3 linked regions of the Homo sapiens genome follow. The protein of the gene in region 1 purifies or fractionates together with the protein of each later gene. This does not show direct contact. Each region holds a gene or a part of one and is shown on either strand. Other genes may lie near its edges.

Region 1 (7,026 bases):
TGGTCTAGGTCTTGCTGCTCGCCACACAGAAAGCCAGTTACTGAGGACAAGTATTGCCAAGGAAGAGGCTTTATAATCAGATGGTGCAGCCGAGGAGATGAGAGCTCATCCTCAAACCCATCTCCCTGACTAAAACTAGGGGTTTATATAACAGGGAAGAAATGTAGCAATGTGTAAAAAACAGGAACTAGGGAGGGCAAGGAGGCACCTGTAGTGGTCTGGTGATTTTCAGATCTTTGATATTTTTTTGAGAGGCCTCAATGTCCTTTTCTGAGGAAGAAACTCACATAAATAAGTTTGAAGCTTTAACAGCAGATGGTCAATTTCTCTTTATCCAAAAACAACTGTCCATGGGACTATTGAGCCGGTTTCTCCATGATCCTGCCACTGCGCTCCAGCCTGGGCCATAGAGCAATTTGTTTCAAAAAAAAAAAAGAAAGAAAGAAAAATATAGTGGAGCTACAGTGTTCGGGAGACAACTGTGAGTCCATTTGAAACGGGAAGGGTTCCCTTGTCCCCCTCGCAGGGCGTGGGATGGGGGAGTGGCTCGCTTCTTCAGTGTCCTGCTGCTCAGACCTGCAGGGGAGCATACAGATGGGCAGGCTGTGGGCTCTGACCTCATGGCAGTGTCTAGGGGTGAATGTTTACAGCTCTGTGAGTTACAGGGTGCTCTCTTAGTTTGCCGTCTATAGGTGGCTTATGTTAACCAACTCAATTAGATCCCCTTCCTTGTCACAAGGACAGAGGGCTTTCTGTATCCTGGGTTCTTGCCTTGGGGTACCGGAAGAATCGGATCACACGTGGGCTTGGAAAATGAATGCAAGATTTGATTGAGAGCACGTGTGTACATGCCTTGTGCTTCTTTCTACCTTTAAGGCTTTTTGTTGTTTTAGTGTCAACTTCAGTGGTTTGATTACAAAGTAAATGACCAGATCCTAACTTGCGGTTCCCAGGTTCTGTGCTGCGCCCCCTCCAACATCGCCGTGGACAATCTGGTGGAGCGCCTGGCTCTGTGTAAGCAGCGGATTCTGCGCCTGGGACACCCTGCCCGCCTCCTGGAGTCCATTCAGCAGCACTCCCTGGATGCGGTTTTAGCGCGGAGCGACAGTGCCCAGATTGTTGCAGATATCAGGAAGGACATCGACCAGGTCTTTGTAGGTGTCATGGCCAGTGTCCATGTGGGGCGTGGGCTTCTGATCTGCAGTCTTTTTAAGGAGCAAATTTATCTGTCTGCATTCCTCTTGACCTTCTCTTGCTTCTGTCGATTCCTTTAATAATTTTAAAAATTGGGCTGCCCTTTTTTTTTTTTTTTTTTTTTTTTTTTTTTGTGACAGAGTTTTGCTCTCATTGCTCAGGCTGGAGTGCAGTGGTGCAATCTCGGCTCACTGCAACCTCTGCCTCCTGGGTTCAAGCGATTCTCCTGCCTCAGCCTCCCTAGTAGCTGGGACTGCAGGTGCGTGTCACCACGCCTGGCTAATTTTTCTATTTTTAGTTGAGACAGGGTTTCATCATACTGGTCAGGCTGGTCTTGAATTCCTGACCTCAGGTGCTCTGCCCGCCTCGGCCTCTCAAAGTGCTGGGATTACAGGCGTGAGCCACCATGCCTGGCCTTTGTTTTTGTTTTTTTTTTTGAGATGGAGTCTCGCTCTGTCACCCAGGCCGGAGTGTAGTGCTGCTGTCTTGGCTCACTGCAGGCTCCGCCTCCCGGGGTCAAGTGATTCTTGTGCCTCACCCTCCCAAGTAGCTAGGACTACAGGCATGTGCCACCACACCCAACCAATTTTTTTATTTTTAGTAGAGACGGGGGTTTCGCCATGTGGGCCAGGCTGGTCTCGAACTCCTAACCTCAAGTGATCCACCCGCCTCAGCCTCCCAAAGTGCTGGATTACAGGTGTGAGCTACTGTACCCAGCCAGGGCTGCCCATTTTTGATAGAGAACTATACTTAGCATTTAACAGAGTCTCAACTGTCTTCAGAGCACTTGGTTAGTAGGTGTGAGGAATTGTAAAGAAAACATTTTCCGGCCGGATACAGTGGCTCACACGTGCAATCCCAGCACTTTGGGAGGCCGAGGTGGGCGGAACAGTTGAGGTCAGGAGTTCGAGACCAGCCTGGCCCACATGGTGAAACCCCGTCTCTACTAAAAATACAAAAATTAGCTGAGCATGGTGGCGGGCACCTGTATTCCCAGCCACTTGGGAGGCTGAGGCAGGAGAATCTCTTGAACCTGGGAGGTGGAGGTTGCAGTGAGCCATGGTCACTCCACTGCACTCCAGCCTCGGTGACAAAGCAAGACTCCGTCTCAAAAAAAAAACCAAACATTTTCCTGGGTGTCTTTCTGTCTGGTCCTGTTGTCTTGCTAGTAGTGGCAATGGGAGAAAAGTAGCCTGAACATAAACATTGAAAAAATTGGCATCCTCCTAGAGCTTTCCGTCCATTCCACCTTCTCCTTGTGAAAGAGGACACCAGTCGGCTGGAGAAGTAGGGTGGTGGTAGGTTTCTTCCATTTGAGAGGGCCTTTTCCCCCCAGCCCGACACTCCGACACTTTTGAGCTCTTTGGTTCTCCCGTGGACGCTTTGTTGTAGTGTCTGTGCTCACGTCCTGTCCTGTGTGCTCACTGTCGGTACTGGTACTCCTTGGTGTCTTAGTCTCAGAGGAGTGATGGCAGCAGGGAGGGTGCTGGAGCCAGTCTTTGCTCTAATGTCTGTGCTCACATCTTGTCCTGTGTGCTTACGGTCAGCACCTGCACCCTCGGTGTCCTAACCTCGGAGGAGTGGCGGCAGCAGAGAGGGTGCTGGGAGCCAGTCTTTGCTATGGGCCCGTGGCATCGAGGCTGCTTGCGTGGCTGCTTGCATGGCAGCGTGGGGATGGGCCGCCTGCTGGGAGGGGGAGGAAGGATAGATGCATGTCATGCAGGTTCGAGGTGGTGGAGGAATATGCATGATGTTTGCTCATCACAAATGTGGGTGATTTCATTTCCTGTTGAAATTGGTGCTTTTGAGGATTTTCTTTCTCTGTAAATTATACACAGTAAAATACCTCCTGTCACCCCTGCTAAAACTCCATCCCCCAAAGTAGAAATCACAAATAAGGAAAGGTTACATCTTTTTTTTTTTTTTTTTTTTTTTTTTAAAGAATCTTGCTCTGTCGCCCAGGCTGGAGTGCAGTGGTGCAATCTCGGCTCACTGCAACCTCCGCCTCCTGGGTTCAAGCAATTCTCCTGCCTCAGCCTCCCGAGTAGCTGGGATTACAGGCACACACCATGCCCAGCTAATTTTTTGTATTTTTAGTAGAGACAGCGTTTCACTGTGTTGGCCAGGCTGGTCTCGATTTCCTGAGCTCGTGATCTGCCTGCCTCGGGCTCCCAAAGTGCTGGGATTACAGGCATGAGCCACCGCGCCTGACCAGTTCCATCTTTTTGAGATATTAAAGTAAGTTGAGGTTTTGATTATGGGTTGAAAAAATTTTTTTTAATCTCTTGAAAAATGTAGAATAATATGTGAAGCTCAGTCTCTCTATTCGTAAGCTCCTACAACCCAAATCCTGGGGCGGGCAAGCGCTTTTTCTTCCCCAAGATCAAATGCCTGTGTGCAGGGCAGGGCTGGTCCAATTTCTGGTCTCCTCTGAGTTAAAAACGTGGTCTCTTTCCAGGACTTAAAATGTCTCTTCCTGTGACTTCAAGGCAAGTGAGGATGTAAGGTGCTTAGTTGCGTGTGTGTATCTGTGTCTCTTTCAAGGAAGATTTCTGAGTGTTTTTTACGGAGTTTATTGAACTGGACTGAATGATAGAAGCACTTCATAAATAGAGTTGAAGAAGTACAAAGTTGGACTGAAGTAAGTGTATCTCCTTTGTTTTTCTTTATAGGTGAAAAACAAAAAGACCCAGGATAAGAGAGAGAAAAGTAATTTTCGAAATGAAATTAAGCTGTTAAGAAAAGAACTGAAGGAGAGGGAAGAAGCAGCTATGCTCGAGAGCCTCACTTCGGCAAACGTGGTCCTTGCAACAAACACAGGTGAGGGGGCGTCTCCATCCTGCCTGTGTGGCCTCGAAGAAGGAGTTGGGGTGTGTTCCCTCTTCTGTTTTCTGGAAGAGTTTGTTTAGAATTGGTATTTCTTTCTTAAAAGTTGGGTAGGGTTCACTAGGGAAGGCCTCCGTACCTGCAGTTTTCTTCATGGAGAGGTTTTGAACTACAAATTCAACTTCTTCAATAGATAAAGGGCTGTTCAGGTTGTTTTTCTTCCATGAGCTTGTAGCTTTCAAGAAGTTTGTCCATTTTATCTAAACGGTTGAATTTAGAGGCATGAAGTGGTTCCTAATATGCCCTTATTCTTCTTTTACTGTCTGCAGGATCTGTCATGATATAACCTGTATTATTCCTGATACTGGTTTGTGTGCTCTTTTTTTTCCTGCTCTTCTGGCTGGAGGGTTTTTTTTTTTAAATTTAGATTTTATATATACATACATATATATTTTAAGAGACAGGGTCTCTGCCAGGCGCAGTGGCTCACACCTGTAATCCCAGCATTTTGGGATGCCAATGCGGGTGGATCACCTGAGGTCAGGAGTTTGAGACCTGCCTAGCCAACATGGTGAAACCCCATCTCTACTAAAAATACAAAAATTAGCCAGGAGTTGTGGTATGCACCTGTAATTCCAGCTACTTGGGAGGCTGAGGTAGGAGAATTGCTTGAATCCTGGAGGTGGAGGTTGCAGTGAACCAAGATCGCGCCACTGCACTCCAGCCTGGGTGACAGAGCAAGACTCCGCCTCAAAAAAATAAAAACCCCAAAACCAAAAAAACAAAGCAAAACAAAAAAAGAGACAGGGTCTCACTATGTTGCCCAGGCTGGTCTCAAACTCCTGGGCTCAAGGGATCCCCCTGCCTCAGCCTCCTAAAGTGCTAGGATTACAGGTGGACCCACCGCGCCCGGCCTGGCTGCAGGTTTCAATTGATCTTCCCAAAGAACCAGCTTTTGCTTTTTCTCTATTGTTTTTCTGTTTCATGTATTTCCACATTGATCTTTATCGTTTTCTGTTTTCTTGGGCTTGTTCTTTTTCTTGCTTCTTAATGTAGAAGCTGAGATCATTGATTTGAGACCTTTCTTTTTTTCTGATACGAGCATTTAGCTCCATAAATGTCTCCCTAAGTACTGCTTTTGTGGCATCCCACAAATTCTGATCTGTTATATTTCATTCATTTCAAAATGCTATCTCATTTGCCTTTTGGTTTTTTAGAAGTGTTATATAGTTTCTAGATAGTTGGGAAATGTCCAGATATCTTTCTGTTGTTGATCTCTCCTCTCCTCTCCCCTCCCCTCCCCGTCCCCGTCCCCGTCCTGTGTGGGATCTCACTGTGTTGCTCCTCTCCTCTCCTCTCCTCTCTTCTTCTCTCCTCTCCTCATCCCTGTCCCCATCCCCATCCCCGTCGCCTTCCCTATCCCCATCCCCATATGGGATCTCACTATGTTGCCCAGGCTGGACTCAAACTCCTGGGCTCAGGTGATTCTCCCAGCTCAGCCTCCTGAGGAGCTGGGGCTCCCTGCATGTGCCACTGCACCTGGCTTACTTTCTGTTATTGGTTTCTAATTTAGTTCCATGTGGTCAGAGGACATACTCTCATGACTTGGATAGTTCATCGAGACTTACTTTATGGTCCAGAATCTGGTCTCTGTCTTTGTGAGTGTTCCATGCACACTTGATAGAACGTGTGTTCTGATTTTATTGAGTGTTCTGTAAGTAGTCAGATCATGATGGTTGATGATGTGGTTCAAGTCTGCTGTATTGAGAGAGGGACGTTGAAATCTCTGAATATAACTGGACATGTCTGTTTTTCCTGCAGTTCTATTGGTTTTTGCTTCATATCTTTGGAAACTCTTTTACTGGGGTCATAAATGTGGGGCTATGTTTTCTTGATTAATTAACAAATTTATCATTATGAAATGACCTTCTTTATCCCTGATAATATTCTTTTTTTGAAATCTACTTTGTCTGACATTAAAATAATCATTTCAGCATTTCAGCTTGCTTTTCTTTTCATTATGGTCAAAAACCTGTAAAATTTACCATCGTAACCCTTTTTAAGTCTGTAGTACAGTAGCATTAATTGTATGCATGTTGTTGTACAGCAGATCTCTAGAACATTTTCATCTTGCAGACCTGAAGCTCTGGATCTGTTGAACAGCAATTCCCTTTTTCCCTGTCCCAGATCCTGGCAGTCACCATTCTCCTGTCTGTTTCTAAGAATTTTATTATTTTACATACCTCAAGTAAGTGGAACCATGCAGGATTTGTCGTCTTGTGACTGGCTTGTTTTATTTAGTGTAATGCCCTCATGGTTCATCCATGTTGTCCAGCTTTCTTTTTATTTTTAAGAGACAGGGTCCCAATCTGTCACCTAGGCTGGAGTACAGTGGTGCGGTCAAAGCTGTACTCCAGCCTTAACCATGAATGTGGGACCTCCAGCAATCCTCCCACATTGACCTCCTGAGTTGCTGGGATTAACAGGCGTGAGCCATTGCACCCAGCCCCCACCTTTCTTTCAACTAGTGTTAGTGTGATCTATCTTTATCCTTTTTCTTAGAACCTATTTGTGTCTTTATGTTTAAAGTGATCTTTTAAAAAATATTTGAGACACGGTCTCACTGTGTTACCCCTAACTGGAGTTGCAGTGGTGCAATCATGGCTCCCTGCAGCCTCAACCTCCTGGGCTGAAGTGATTCTCCCACCTCAGCCTCCTGAGTAGCTGGGACAACAGACACGTGCTATCACACCCTGCTCATTTTTTTGATTTTTAATAGAGACAAGATCTCACTGTGTTGCCCAGGCTGGTCTGGAGTTCCTGGACTCAAGTAGTCCTTCCACCTCTGCCTCCCACAGTGCTAGGATTACAAGTGTAAGCCACTGTGCCTGGCCTGTTTATTTCTTTTTAAAGAGAGAGTCTTGCTCTGTTGCTCAGACTGGAGTGCAGAGGCGTGATCATAACTTGCTGTAGCCTTGCATTCTTTGGCTCAAGTAATCCTCCCAC
Region 2 (7,026 bases), 7.5 Mb from region 1:
GATACTAGTAGACCAGGTAAAAAATTATGGTAGCTTGGACCAGGGTGTTATTGATGGAGAGAAGCAGATGGATTTGGGGAGTCATTCCACTGTGCTAAGGGAAAAGTCTACAAAATCTGGAGTACAGGGAACAGAACAATGACAGGGAGAGCTGGGAAAGGGGAGGCATTGGTAAAAATTTGAGACGAGTATGTAAGTGGGTATGTATGTATATAAATATATATACATATTCATAATACACATATGAATACACATGTGAAAACACTTATTGTGGTCATATATATATATATTTTTTTTTTTTTTCTTTTTTTTTGAGACGGAGTCTCGCTCTCTTGCCAGGCTGGAGTGCAGTGGTGCGATCTTGGCCTACTGCAACCTCCACCTCCCGGATTCAAGTGATTCTCCTACCTCAGCCTCCCGGTCATATATAATTTTTATAATTTTATTCATGTAAAAACGTATACATAGAAGAGCTACGTGCGGTGGCTCATGCCTGTAATCCTAGCACCTTGGGAGGCCGAGGCAGGACGATCACTTCACCCAGGCGTTTCAGACTAACCTGGGGAACATGGTGAAACCCCGTCTCTACAAAAAATACAAAAAGTTAGCCAGGCATGGTGGCGTGTGCCTGTAGTCCCAGCTACATGGGAGACTGAGGTGGGAGAATCGCTTGAACCCAGGAGATGGAGGCTGCAGTGAGCCGAGATTGCACCACTGCACTCCAGCCTGTGCAACAGAGTGAGATCCTCTCTCTCAAAAAAAAACCCCAAAAAACATATGCACAGAAGATCACAAATGATAACTGTACATCATGTTGGATTTTCAGAGTAACATATCCATGAAAATTTCACCGGGATTTTTAAAAAATAGAGTATCACTAGCGTCCCAAACTTCCTCTGCTTCATGGTTCTCCCAGCCATTATCCCATTCTCCCCAGTGGTAGCCACTGTGACTTCACATACCTTGGATTAGTTAGGTTTTGGGGGGAAGAGGGAGAATGAATGGAAGCTTTATTATTGTTTGAGATATAGAACATTAGCAGCACCTCAGTAGCCTCTTTTGTGCCCACTCCCAGTTGTTACCCTCCCCAAATGTATCTGCTATTCCATCACTGTGTTGAGGCGGAGCCAGACCACCCCATATTTAAAGATTCACTAGAAGGGCTTGCAGGACTCAGTATATGGTTGTACTCACAGTGAAGATTTATTGCATTGTAGTAAGGATACACATCTGGATCATGAGGGAAAAAGACAGGCACAGTCTGAAGGAATCCATGTATAGGCTTCCCTATGCTCCGTCTTTCCCATGAGGGGGTCACCCAGAGCCCGTTTTTCCCCAGTGGTGGAAATGTGGCAACACGTGCCGTGTTTCTGTGGAGAGAAGACCGTTAGAGACGTAGTGTCCGAGGTTTTTACTGGGTCCTGATCACATAGGCAGCCTCTGCCTGGCATATAATAAAATTCCAAATTCCCAGAAGGGATGGCAGGTGTTCAGCAGGTGTGCTTGTTTGCACAAGCAGTCTAGGCACATTGAGCTGCATTATCAGTTAGGAAAAATTTTATTTCTGTGTATGGAACTGTTTACCAACCAAGTTCCCGGATACCAGCCCAAGGTCCTTAACAAACAGGCCTTTCTAAGGACAGCAGCCTGAGGTCTGCTGTGTTAACTCTTTTTCTGAACAATCACTATGAATGAGTTTTGCCTGTTCTAGAATTTCATATCAAAGGAATCATGTAGTATGTACTCCTGGCTTCTTCTGCTTAACATTACGTTTGTGAGATTGTAGATAGTTTGTTCATTTCATAGCCAAGTAGTATTCCATTGAATGAATATACCACAATTTATCCATCCTGCTGTTGATGGGCAAAGTTACTTCACCTTCTCCCCAATATTTGGTATTACCTCTTTTACATTGTAGTCATTCTTGTGGGTATGTAGTAATTTGTTTTGGCTTTAATTAGCATTTCCCTGATGGCAAATGAGATCGAGCATTTTTTTTTCATCTATGTATTGCCATTTTTATAACCTTTTTATTATAAAGTGCCTGTTCAAGGCCCCTTGCCTATTTTTATGTTGGGTTATTTATTTGTAGGAGTTCTTCATATATATTTTGAATGTGAGTCCATTGTTAGATATATGTATTGCAAATATCTGACATTTTGTGGTCTGCCATTTCACTCTTAAATGGCTTCTTTTAATGAAGAAAAGTTATTAACTTTAAAGTAGCCTAATTTATATATCTTTTCCTCTAGCATTTGTGCTGTTGCCTTAAGAGATCTTTATTCCAAGGTCATGAAGATAATCTCCTGTGTTATCTTTTAGTGGCTTTATTGTTTTACCTTTCATATTTAGATCTCCAATCACTTGGAACTTATTTTTGTGTATGGTGTACAAGTAGGAGTTAAGATTTATTTTTTTCATGTAGATATTCAGCTGACTCGGCCCTATTTATTGGAAAAGAAAAATCCATATTTGCTGCTGTTCAGAGCTACCTTTAAGTATCTGCAGTGCTCTATTTTGTTTCACTGTTCTGTCCTTCTGCCAGTACTTGTCTTAATAAGCTTTACAGTAAGTCTTAATATCTGGTAGTGTAATTCTTTCAACCTCCTTTTTCCTCTCTCTCTCTCAAGATTATCTTGGTTATCCCTGGTTCTTTAATGTTGTGTATAAAAAGTTTTAGAATAATTTGTCATTTCTTTCTCTTGCTCTCTCTCACAAACTTACTGGGCTTGTGATTATATTGAATTAGTAAATGGGTTTGGGGAGAATTGACATCTTTGGAATTTAGTGTGCCAGTTCATAAACTTGTGTATTTATTTAAGTTTGCTTTAAAAAGATTATTAGAGGTCTTGCACTTCTTTCACTAGATTTATTCTTAAGTAGTTCATATAGAAAGTCAGGTGTATTTGATTAGGCTCTCTGCCTGATGCCCATTCTGTTCTTGATTGTCTGAATAAGAGTTGCTGTTGATATCAGAAAGCTGTTTCAACTTAGTTCGGAGGTAATATGTACAGTATTGCTCTGTGTGGAAGGTCTCCAGAGATTTAAGAATTTAAAAAACAAACAACTGTAGCAGTATGGCAAATTATTTTATAGTGAGATCGTTTTTATACTTAATATTTGGATTTTGAAACATGAAATGTTTATAATCATAATGTACAACTGTGTAAAAGTGTGATTAAATTGTGAACATCTTAGGCATCGTTACTGTGAGCAGTAATACTTGTTGGTCAAATGAAATGCTGTACAATTTAGGTGTAGTTTTTTAAAAATCATAGCATTTTACCTTGATTTGACATTTTTAGAGTAGAGAGAATTAAGTGTCAGGGGCATGTATGTTGGGGGGAGGTGGACAATAGTGTTAAAACATAAAAAAAAAATACTGTGATTTAATTATAAAGGAATATGTTGGGCCGGGCGCAGTGGCTCGCGCCTGTAATCCTAGCACTTTGGGAGGCCAAGGTGGGCAGATCACCTGCGATCTGGAGTTCGAGACCAAGCTAGCCAACGTGCTGAAACCCCATCTGTACTATAAATACAAAACTTAGCTGAGTGTCGTGGTGCACGCCTATAATCTCAGCTCCTTGGGTGGCTGAGGCAGGAGAATTGCTTGAACCTGGGAGGCAGAGGTTGCAGTGAGCTGAGATCACACCACTGCACTCCACCCTGGGCTAAAGAGCAAGACACCATCTCAAAAAAATAATTTGTGATACTGTTTATCCACGGCAGAACTTTTATTCTTAGAAATTTGAGGAATGGGCCGGGCGCGGTGGCTCACGCCTGTAATCCCAGCACTTTGGGAGGCCGAGGCGGGCAGATCACCTGAGGTCGGGAGTTCGAGACCAGCCTGACCAACATGGAGAAACCCAGTCTCTACTAAAAATACAAAATTAGCCAGGCGTGGTAACGCATGCCTGTAATCCTAGCTACTTGGGAGGCTGAGACAGGAGAATCGCTTGAACCCGGGAAGCAGAGGTTGCAGTGAGCCAAGATCATGGCATTGCACTCCAACCTGGGCAACAAGAGCAAAACTCTGTCTCAAAAAAAAAAAAGAAAAGAAAAGAAATTTGAGGAAAGATCTAGTTGTGACTTTAGCAAGTTACTTAATATTTCTGTGCCTTCATCTGCACAAGGGGGATATTAATAGTACCCATCTTTGGAAAGGACTTAGAACGTGTCTGGCTCATAATAAGTGCTTATTATTAGCTTTTCTGAAAATATTTAAGCACCGAGAGGGCATGGACTTTGTCTTGTTCTCTGTCTTCAACACTTTTTGTGTACTAGATTGTGTAGTCACAGTCCCTGCATTCATGGAGCTTGCAATCTAGTCAGCACGTATTACTGTAGATAATAATTTGTGTTCATAGGAAGATAAACGAATACAGCCTTTATGCTTCCCTTAGAAACTAGTTATTTAAAGAACATCTAGTTGCTGATTTTTTTTTTTTTTTCCGAGACGGAGTCTGGCTCTGTCACCCAGGCTGGAGTGCAGTGGCGCAATCTCGGCTCACTGCAAGCTCCGCCTCCCGGGTTCACGCCATTCTCCTGCCTCAGCCTCCCGAGTAGCTGGGACTACAGGCGCTCGCCGCTTCGCCCAGCTAATTTTTTGTATTTTTAGTAGAGACGGGGTTTCACCGGGTTAGCCAGGATGGTCTCGATCTCCTGACCTCCTGATCTGCCTGCCTTGGCCTCCCAAAGTGCTGGGATTACAGGCGTGACAACACGCCCGGCCTAATTGCTGATTTTCTACAGTGACAGTGTTGTTTTGTATGCTTGTTGAAGTTGAAATCCTGAAGGGAATGTTAAGCTGTGAGCCTTGTGGCTGTGCATGCAGCTTTCTGCTTGTTCTGCTGATGGTTGAATCTTCTCTGATGTTTTGGGAGTTGGAAGATGCAGGTTTCAGTTCTAGTTCTGCTGATGATTTTGTACTTCCCTCCAAACAAGTTACTTCTTAACCTTGTCTGTAATTGAAATGTTGGTACTAAATGACTTCTAAGGTTTTTTCCAACTGTTATTTTGTTATTAATCAAATTCTCCAAATTATGTTCTCAGGGAGGGGAGCAGGAATCCGTTGTTATTAATGTATGTTTGCCTTAAAACTGAAGGCTGAAATTTAAATGCTGAGCTCATTTTCATAATTGTATTTTGGTTTTATTTATAGATGCCAGAAGTGGGTGGAGAACTGTAGGAGAGCAGACTTAGAAGATAAAACACCTGATCAGCTAAATAAACATTATCGATTATGTGCCAAACATTTTGAGACCTCTATGATCTGTAGAACTGTGAGTAATAGAAGAGCTTGGTGTCTCTCTGTTTGACTTGATTTCTCTCTCTCACTGTGTCTGGTTGGAAATGTAAGTATTTACCAATGTTGGAAGGTATTCCTATATCCTGCCACTTTAAGATGAAGACAGATTTGGAGCTGAAAAGTATCTGTTTTGTTCTTAAAATCCTGATTTTGCCGGGGGCCTATAATCCCAGCACTTTGGGAGGCCGAGGCAGGAAGACCACTTGAGCTCAGGAGTTTGAGACCAGCCTGGGCAACATGGCCAGATGCCGTCGCTACAGAAAATACCAAAAAAACTAGCGAGGTGTGGTGACGTATGCCTGTAGTCCCAGCTACTTGGGAAGCTGAGATGGGAGGATACTTGAGCCCATGACGTCGGGGCTGCAGAGAGTTGTGTTCATGCCACTACACTCCACTCTGGGCGACAGAGTGAGCGCTTGTCTGGAAAAAAAACTCAAAATGATTAAAACAAAACAAAACAAAACAAAACTCTTCGGTTCCTGGTGCCCCATTTCTACTCACCCAAGGTAACTACTTTTTTTTTTTTTTTTTTTAAAGACAGTCTTGCTCTGTCACCCAGGCTGGAGTGCAGTGGCGCTATCTTAGCTCACTGCAACTTCTGCCACCTCCCCCACCTCCTGGGCTCAAGCGATTCTCTCTCCTCAGCCTCCCAAGTAGCTGAGATTACAGGCATTGTGCCACCACGCCCAGCTAATTTTTGTACTTTTAGTAGAGGTGGGATTTCTCCATGTTGGCCAGGCTAGTCTCAATCTCCTGACCTCAAGTGACCCGCCCACCTCGGCCTCCCAAAGTGCTGGGATTACATGTATGAGCCTCCACACCCGGCTGAGGTAACCACTTTTAAATATTATTTAGTCTTCAGGAAAATTTTAGATGATTATAAAAGTATATGTTTATTTAAGGTAAAGTTGGTGTTTTTATTTGGAGCTCTTTAGAGCTTTTTTATGAGTAAAATTTTCATCTCGGAATGGAGCTCTTGTTTTCATGTTTTTGTATGTACTATTAGAACCAACTTTTAATTTTTATGTGGTAGATATAATGGTAAACAAATTATCCAGGTAATGTGGAAAAACATTTTCATCAATAATATGTAATTTCATATCAGGACCTACTGTTAACTGTGTGAGCTTGGCCAAGTCACTTCCCCTCTTTGGGCCCCAGTTCCTAATAAGGAGATTAGGCCAGGTAATTCCTGAGTTCTAAGATTTTTAACCCTCTGTGATTCTCTTGCTGTGATTTATAAAAGGCACAAATAAGGCAAATTTGATTGAAATGAAGCAGACTTGTTTCAGTGTAACTAATGTAACACCTCAGATATTGGGATAGACATAAACTTGATTCAAAGGTACACTATATGTTGTTATGCAGCAATTTATTTTGATATTTTTTTCAGATACATTTTGCAGAGGCATCAGAAAACTAAAGAATGATTGGGTTATTTTATTTCTCAAAATTAATTGAAGCAGATACTTGTGAAGTCATTGGGAGGTGAGCCAATTCCGGTTCAACAGTTTAATCACAAATATTTGAGGAATATTTTTGCCTTGATTTGTTAAAAGGGTAATAATGATCAACCAAAATAAAAGGTTTCATATGTTTAAAAGGCAAACTACTTTTATGTTCTTGACATGAAGTAAAAATATCCCAAATTATTTTAAATACATTTGCCATATGCATTTTTGCATTTTTATTTTAGTAATAAATATGGTCTCTTAATT
Region 3 (7,584 bases), on another chromosome or scaffold:
GTTGTCCCCAGTTGGACCCAGAACTCTTCTGCATTTCAGTGCCCTCAAGCCTGGGCTGTGAGCTTCCTCCTGGAAGGCAAAGACAGCATCCCATATAGCTTGTCCCCCAACCCCCTTCCTGCACAGGTTCTGGCACATTCAGTGTCCGAAGTGTGTTTCCTGAATGGAATGAATGGATGGATGAATGAATGAATGAATGAATGGTGTCTTCATGATGATGATTTCCTCCACTCACCTCTCATCCCTCTCCCCTCCACCCCACACATATCTTCAAACTTATCTGGCCAGAGCTGAGAAAGACACTGAAGAAAATCCCAGGTGGAATCATTCATACTAGATTCTACTCGCAGACCTGTGACCTTGGACACACAGCTATATGACCTTGGACAAGTTGTAGCGCCCTGCTGGACACAAAGCCCAGCCCTAACACATGTTTGTTGAATGAGCAAATAAATGAATGAATAGATGGATGAATTCCCTGCCTTCATGTTATCACAAGCCCTGGGCCCTTTTGTGGGGCAAGCTCTCTGCAGCAATGAGGTAATAGGATAAAGGATCCTGACATTGGCAGAGACCTGCGGTTCTGTGACTTTAGGTCCAAGGGATCTTATATTCAAATGCTGATTCAGTAATTCATTCCACAAGCATTTCTTAAACATCTTTTTGTTGTTGTTGTTGTTGTTGTTTGAGACAGAGTCTTGCTCTGTTGCCCAGGCTGGAGTGCAGTGGCACGATCTCGGCTCACTGCAACCTCCACCTTCTGGGTTCAAGAGATTCTCCTGCCTCAGCCTCATGAGTAGCTGGGATTACAGACATCCACCACCATGCCTGGCTAATTTCTGTATTTTTAGTAGAGATGGAGTTTCACCATGTTGGCCAGGCTGATCTTGAACCCCTGACCTCGTGATCCACCTGCCTAGGCCTCTCAAAGTGCTGGGATTACAGGCGTGAGCCACCGCGCCTGGCCCACATTTCTTAAACATTTATTATGTGTGAGGAACTGTGAAGCATAGAACACTGGTGAGGACAAGGATTTGTGTCTATGTTGTTCCCTCACATATTCCAAGCGTTTGTAATGGTGTGGGGCACAGTGGCTGACACCTGTAATCCCAGCACTTTGGGAGGCCAAGGCAGGCGGATCACCTGAGGTCAGGAGTTCCAGACCAGCCTGGCCAACATGGCGAAACTCCATCTCTGCTAAAAACACAAAAGTTAGCCGGGCATGGTGGCGGGTGCCTGTAATCCCAGCTACTAAGGAGTCTGAGGCAGGAGAATCACTTGAACCCCAGAGGCAGAGGTTGCAGTGAGCCAAGATCATGCCACTGCACTCCAGCTTTGGTGACAGAGCAAGATTCCATCTCAAAAAAGAAGAAAAAATAAAAAGAAGGTGCTCAATGCTATTTGTTGAATGAATGAATGAATGAAATAATTCCATGGATCTGTGATTCTGTGATTTCTTTTTTTTGTTCGTTTGTTTGTTTTGGTTTTTTTTTTAATTGAGACAGGGTCTCGCTGTCACAAGTGGAAAGCAGTGGCATGATCACGGCTGACTGCAGCCTTGACCTCCCAGGTTCAAGCAATTCACCCATCTCAGCCTCCTGAGTAGCTGGGACTATAGGTGCATGCCACCTGGCTATTTTTTTTGTAGAGACATGATCTCACCATGTTGCCCAGTCTGGTCTCAAACTCCTGGGCTCAAGTGATACTCCCACCTCGGCCTCCCAAAGTGCTGAGATTACAGGTGTGAGCCACTGTGCCAGCTGGATCTGTGATTTCTAAATGTGAGGAATACCAGGATGTTTTGAAAACATACAACAGGGAAATATGACATCATATGACATCATTTCAAAGGTTTCCCTGCGTAAGTGATAAATGAGTTGATACACATAGAACTCCGACAACGTCTGGCAGAGAGTAGGCACTCAATACATTTATTGGATGAATGAATAAATATTCAAGGCAAGACCTGAAGAATGAGGAACTATTCCTGTATTAGTTGGCTCTGGCTACCATAACAAAATAGCACAGACAGGGAGGCTTCAACAACAGAAATTTATTTTCTCACAGCTCTGGAGTAGAGAAATCCAAGGTCAAGGTGCCATGAGGGTTGGTTTCTGGTGAGGCCTCTCTTCCTGGATGCAAACAGCCACCTTCTCACTGTGTCCTACTATGGCCTCATCTTTGTGTGTGCTCAGGGAGGCAGTGCGGGGGGCGGGGAGAGACAGAGAGAGAGTACTCTGGAGTCTCCTCATTTCACAAGGGCACCAGTTCTATCTGATTAGTGTCCTACCCATACAAACTCACTTATTAACCCTTCCTATGTCCTTTCAGGGCCCATCTCCAGGCCAGGCATGGTGGCTTACACCTGTAATCCCAGCACTTTGGAAGGCCTAAGACAGGAAGATCATTTGAGGCCAAGAGTTCGAGACCAGCTTAGGCAACAGAGTGACAGCCTTGTCTCTACAAAAATTTTTAAAAGTTAGCCGAGTGTCAGGTATAGTGGCACACACCTGTTGTCCTAGCTACTCAGAACACTAAGGTAAGAAGAGCACTTGAGCCTGGGAGTTTGAAGCTGTGTGAGCTATGATCACACTACTACACTCTAGTCTGGGCAACAGAGTGAGACCCTGTCTCTAAAAAAAAAAAAAAAAAACAATAATAATAATATATGCTATCTCCAAATACAGCCACATTCAGAGCTAGGGCTTCAATATATAAATTAGGGCAGAGGCGTCCAATCTTTTGGCTTCTCTGGGCCACAGTGGAAAAAGAATTGCCTTGGGCTACACATAAAATACACTAATGATAGCTGATGAGCTGAAAAAAAAAATCGAAAGAAAATCTCATAATGTTTTAAGAAAGCTTACGAATTTGTGTTGGGCTGCATTCAAAGCCATCCTGGGCTGCATGCAGCCTGTGGCCCAGGGGTTGGACAAGCTTGAATTAGGGGAAGGGCACAATTCACTCCATAACAGTTCCAGACAGAAAAAACTGCATGGGCAAAATCACTGATGCAGGAAGAGCCATGCCTTGTAAGAACTCAGAAAAAGCCAGCAAGATTTAACCTAAAGAGAGGGGTGGCTGGACATAGCAAGGCTGAATTGACCATTATAAGGAGTGTTCTTTTTTTCCTGCATGTAAGGGAGCCGTCGCAGGGTTTGAGGGTGAAGAGCAGCAGGCCAGATTTTTGGTCTGAAAAGATAACCCTGGCTGCATCGTGGAGAATGGGTAGAAAGAGGCAGGAATGGAAATGGGGGGGCTCATCGGGAGGCTGTTGTAGCGGTCCAGGCAGGTGATGATGGTGACTCTGACCAGAGTGAGGCAGTGGAGATGGGGAGAGCAGATTCAAGCTGTGTTCATGAGGATGACTTGGCAGAGCTTGAGACTGCCTGAGCAGTGGAGGGAGAGAGAGGAGAGTTGGCAAGGGAGATCCTTCGTTTCAGGCAAAAGAGCTCAAGTTCATTGCTGTCTGCTTCAGTTCCTCAGTAATATGGGGAGAAAAGGGTTGTAAGAATTAAATGAGTTATGTGGGAAAGCACTTAGAACAATTCCTGACTTGTTGATGTCATTATCACTATTATTGCTTTACAGCATTGATGATTGTAGAAATGATTTGCTTTTGTACTCGAGTATTATTGAGTTGATCCATTTTATTTATTTATTTATTTATTTATTTATTTATTTATTTATTTATTTATTGAGACAGAGTCTTGCTCTGTCATCCAGGCTGGAGTGCAGTGGTGAGAGCTCGGCTCACTGCAACCTCTGCCTCCCAGGTTCAAGAGAATCTACCACCTCAGCCTCTCCAGTAGCTATGACCACAGGCGCATGCCACCACGGCTGGTTAATTTTTTTGTATTTTTAGTAGAGACCTGGTTTCACCATGTTGGCCAGGCTGGTCTCGAACTCCTGGACTCAAGTGATCTGCTCGCCTGGGCCTTCCAAAGCGCTGGGATTACAGGTGTCAGCCACCACGCCCAGCCTTGACTTGATCCATTTTTAAAAGGATACTAATTTCTAGGCTAGGCGTGGTGGCTCACACCTGTAATCCCAGCACTTTGGGACACTGAGGCTGGGGAGTGGGGGACTTGCTGCTTGAGTTCAGGAGTTTGAGACCAGCCTGGGCAACATAGTGAGACCTCGTCTCTACAAAAAATGAGAAAAAAATAACCGGGCAGGGTGTCATGTGCCTGTAGTCCAGGCTACTCTGAGGCTGAGGTGGGAGGATCGCTGTGCCAGAAAGTTCGAGACTGCAGTGAGCCGTGGTGGCACCACTGCCCTCCAGTCTGGGCGACGGAGTGAAACTCTGTCTCAAAATGAAATTAAATTAAAATGGGGCAAGAATCCCTGTTGTGAAGAGTCAAAAGTTTACTGTGTCCTCTAAGACCCTGGCGAAAAATAAATGTGAAGGCTGTTGAGGGGCGGGAGGAGCACCAGGTAAGCCCATTTCTAATCCCTGAGGCCGTGCGCAGCGGGACGCTTCTCCTCCCCAACAGCAGAGGGCGATGTGGCCGGCGGCGACCCCGCCCGACCACGGAGACGGCGCTCTGTCTGCCGGGCTCTTTCTCCTCCACGTGGGGACGCAGGATGGCGGCAGCAGTGCCGGTGGGTGTGCGTGGATGGGGGCGGGGGGCGTCGCCGCGGGGCGCTAGGGCCCGGGTCCCTGAGGCCTGAGAGAGGCGAAGTGGGGCCCTTCTGGGCGGGCGACCAGACTGACTCCCGCCCCACTTGCTCGCGCAGGACGAGGCGGTGGCGCGCGATGTGCAGCGGTTGCTAGTGCAGTTCCAGGATGAGGGCGGGCAGCTGCTGGGTTCCCCGTTCGACGTGCCCGTGGACATCACCCCGGACAGGCTGCAGCTCGTGTGCAACGCGCTACTGGCCCAGGTAAGTGGCTGGCCAGGGCGGCCTCGCATCTCCACCCCCGGGCGGATGCGGTGGGGGAATCATATTACCGAGGGTCTGCGGTTCATGGTCCCCCGCTAACGGACTGTGGTGACCCACCTGGCGTGAGCTCCCACCTATGTCAGAGATGGAATCAGTGGCATAGCGCTTTACACGCCAACCAAAGGGGTCCACCTGCGGAGAGGGGCCTAGCTTTGAACGCACCGGATGCTGTATTTCATTGATTCTTTGTCACAGTCCCCCAGTCTGGGACACGTTAATATCCCCATTTTACAGCGTGGCCCGGAGGGACTCAGTATTTTGCACGATGCTATGTAGTAGGTAGCAGATTTGGAATTGGAACCCAAAACTATCCGAATACCCATGCTTTTATTTATTTATTTATTTACCTTTTTTTTTTTTTTTTTTGAGACGGAGTCTCACTTTGTCGCCAGGCTGGCAAGCTGGAGTGTAGTGGCGTGATCTCTGCTCACTGCAATCTCTGCCTCCCAGGTTCAAGCGATTCTCCTGCCTCAGCCTCCCGAGTAGCTGGGACTACAGGCGCGCGCCACCACACCCAGCTAATTTTTGTATTTTTAGTGGGGACTGGGTTTCACCACGTTGGCCAGGATGGTCTCGATCTCTTGACCTCGTGATCCTCCCGCCTTGGCCTCCAAAGTGCTGGGGATTACTGGCGTGAGCCACCGCACCCGGCCTTTGCTTTTAACCTTTAAGCCAGTGTGTTTACTGAAGAGCTGCCCTGGGGACAGGGGAGGTCCTTAAAATTGCAGTTCCTGGACCCCATCCCAGCCTTACTAAACCAAACTCTGGGATGAAGCAGAAAGTCTACATTTTTTAACAGGCGTTTTGGGAGCTTTTTACACAAATATAGTGTAGTGTGGTAGTTTGGGAAACACTGCATAATGCTATATGCTAATCCTATCTTGGACGTAAAGAACCTGAATTAATCATTGGCAATAGGACATTGAACTAATTACTTAGTTGTTCTGAGCCTCTGCTTTTGAAAACTGTCAGTGGGAATATTAGTATCTACTTCCCACGGTTGTTATGAGATGCAGATAAAGAATTTCAGGCCGGGTGCAGTGGCTTATGCCTGTAATCCCAGTACTTTGGGAGGCTGAGGTGGGCAGATCACTAGAGGTCAGGAGTTCGAGACCAGCTTAGCCAATATGGCGAAAACAGTCTCTACTGAAAATACAAAAATTAGCCAGGCGTGGTGGCAGGCGCCTGTAGTCCCAGCTCCTCGGGAGGCTGAAGCAGGAGAATTGCTTGAACCCAGGAGGCAGAGGTTGCAGTGAGCTGAGATCTCACCACTGCACTCCAGCCTGAGTAACAGAACGAGACTCCATCTCAAAAAAAAAAGAAAAAAGAATTTCCAAGTGCTGTGTAAGTGTCCTGCAACTGCTGTTCAGTGACTTAAAAGGTCTTGCTAGGCTGGGCACAGTGGCTCACGCCTGTAATCCCAGCACTTTGGGAGGCCGAGGCAGGTGGATCACCTGAGGTCAGGAGCTTGAGACCAGCCTGGCCAATGTGGCGAAACCCCGTATCTACTAAAAATATAAAACTTAGCCAGGCGTGGTGATGGGTGCCTGTAATCCCAGCTACTCGGGAGGCTGAGGCAGGAGAATCTCTTGAACCCAGGACGCGGAGGTTGCAGTGAGCAGAGATTGCTCCACTGCACTCCAGCCTGGGTGACAGAGCGAGACTCTTGTCTCAAAAATAAATAAATAAATAAATAAAAGGTCTTGCTCAATGGGCAATGATGGGGGTATCCCTAGCACGATGGCTGAAAAGAAGAAGCTTCACCTCCCACAGCTCAGTGGGGAGCATCCCTGGCAGAGGGTGCCCCTGCACATCCATTGTTGCGGGTTTGTCCTTTACCATTGTCCTTCAGGAGGATCCCCTGCCACTGGCTTTCTTTGTCCACGATGCTGAGATCGTCTCCTCACTGGGGAAGACGTTGGAGTCCCAGGCAGTGGAGACAGAGAAGGTCCTAGACATCATCTACCAGCCACAGGCTATCTTCAGAGTCCGGGCTGTGACTCGCTGCACCAGCTCCTTGGAGGGTCACAGTGAGGCAGTCATTTCTGTGGCCTTCAGCCCTACGGGAAAGTAAGGACAGCTGCAGACTCATGGAGGGGGTATGTGGGGGTGCAGTCTTTGCCTGGTTTGGGGAGGGTCTCCCAGAGTTATAATTGATGGGGCCTCAGGGCTGCCTACCATAGACCCAAGCTCTGGACTCAGCTTGCAATTAAGGGACTTCCTCAGTAGGGCATGGTCCCCAAAGGCTGCTTAAGGACCCCTGCCTTGGACAAACCTCTCCTAGACTTGATTTTTCAAGATCTGAGCTGTGTGACTTGTATAAATCACTTAACCTTTCCGAGTTAATTTTTCATCTGTGAAACTGGGATTAGTTGCTTCTCTCAAACTTAGAAAGGTAATGAGAAGCTTCAAAAGCTGGTTATAGCTGTGGAGAGGAAAGAAATGGCCTCCTGATGTATTCTCCCAGAGGACAGCATCAGTATTGTCTTTCTCCCTTCCAGGGGCGAGGAAAGAGTCCAGTTCCATATTCTATTCACAGAAAGTGATTGAATAGGTGGCACAAATGCACATGTGCAGTGTCAAGCATCCTCTCTTCTTCCCCAGGTACCTGGCCAGTGGCTCTGGAGACACCACCGTGCG

Evidence for each region. Proteins that work in one complex are often made in the same cells at the same time.
Region 2: the proteins of IGHMBP2 (region 1) and THAP12 purify together in Homo sapiens (affinity purification with mass spectrometry; 2 studies listed by BioGRID and IntAct, with this or other methods). This does not show direct contact.
Region 3: the proteins of IGHMBP2 (region 1) and NLE1 purify together in Homo sapiens (affinity purification with mass spectrometry; 2 studies listed by BioGRID and IntAct, with this or other methods). This does not show direct contact.

Annotation. Positions count from the first base shown.
Region 1 is NC_000011.10:68,913,870-68,920,895, forward strand, and holds part of IGHMBP2 (DNA-binding protein SMUBP-2), read left to right. Parts: exon of another isoform or gene 1-481; intron 482-953; coding exon 954-1,154; intron 1,155-3,866; coding exon 3,867-4,014; intron 4,015-7,026. UniProt on the Homo sapiens protein: 5' to 3' helicase that unwinds RNA and DNA duplexes in an ATP-dependent reaction. Specific to 5'-phosphorylated single-stranded guanine-rich sequences. May play a role in RNA metabolism, ribosome biogenesis or initiation of translation.
Region 2 is NC_000011.10:76,364,108-76,371,133, reverse strand, and holds part of THAP12 (52 kDa repressor of the inhibitor of the protein kinase), read left to right. Parts: intron 1-5,161; coding exon 5,162-5,282; intron 5,283-6,701; exon of another isoform or gene 6,702-6,796; intron 6,797-7,026. UniProt on the Homo sapiens protein: Upstream regulator of interferon-induced serine/threonine protein kinase R (PKR). May block the PKR-inhibitory function of DNAJC3, resulting in restoration of kinase activity and suppression of cell growth.
Region 3 is NC_000017.11:35,139,279-35,146,862, reverse strand, and holds the start of NLE1 (notchless protein homolog 1), read left to right. Parts: upstream 1-4,559; 5' UTR 4,560-4,587; coding exon 4,588-4,605; intron 4,606-4,611; exon of another isoform or gene 4,612-4,740; coding exon 4,741-4,884; intron 4,885-6,796; coding exon 6,797-7,014; exon of another isoform or gene 7,015-7,043; intron 7,044-7,548; coding exon 7,549-7,584. UniProt on the Homo sapiens protein: Plays a role in regulating Notch activity. Plays a role in regulating the expression of CDKN1A and several members of the Wnt pathway, probably via its effects on Notch activity. Required during embryogenesis for inner mass cell survival.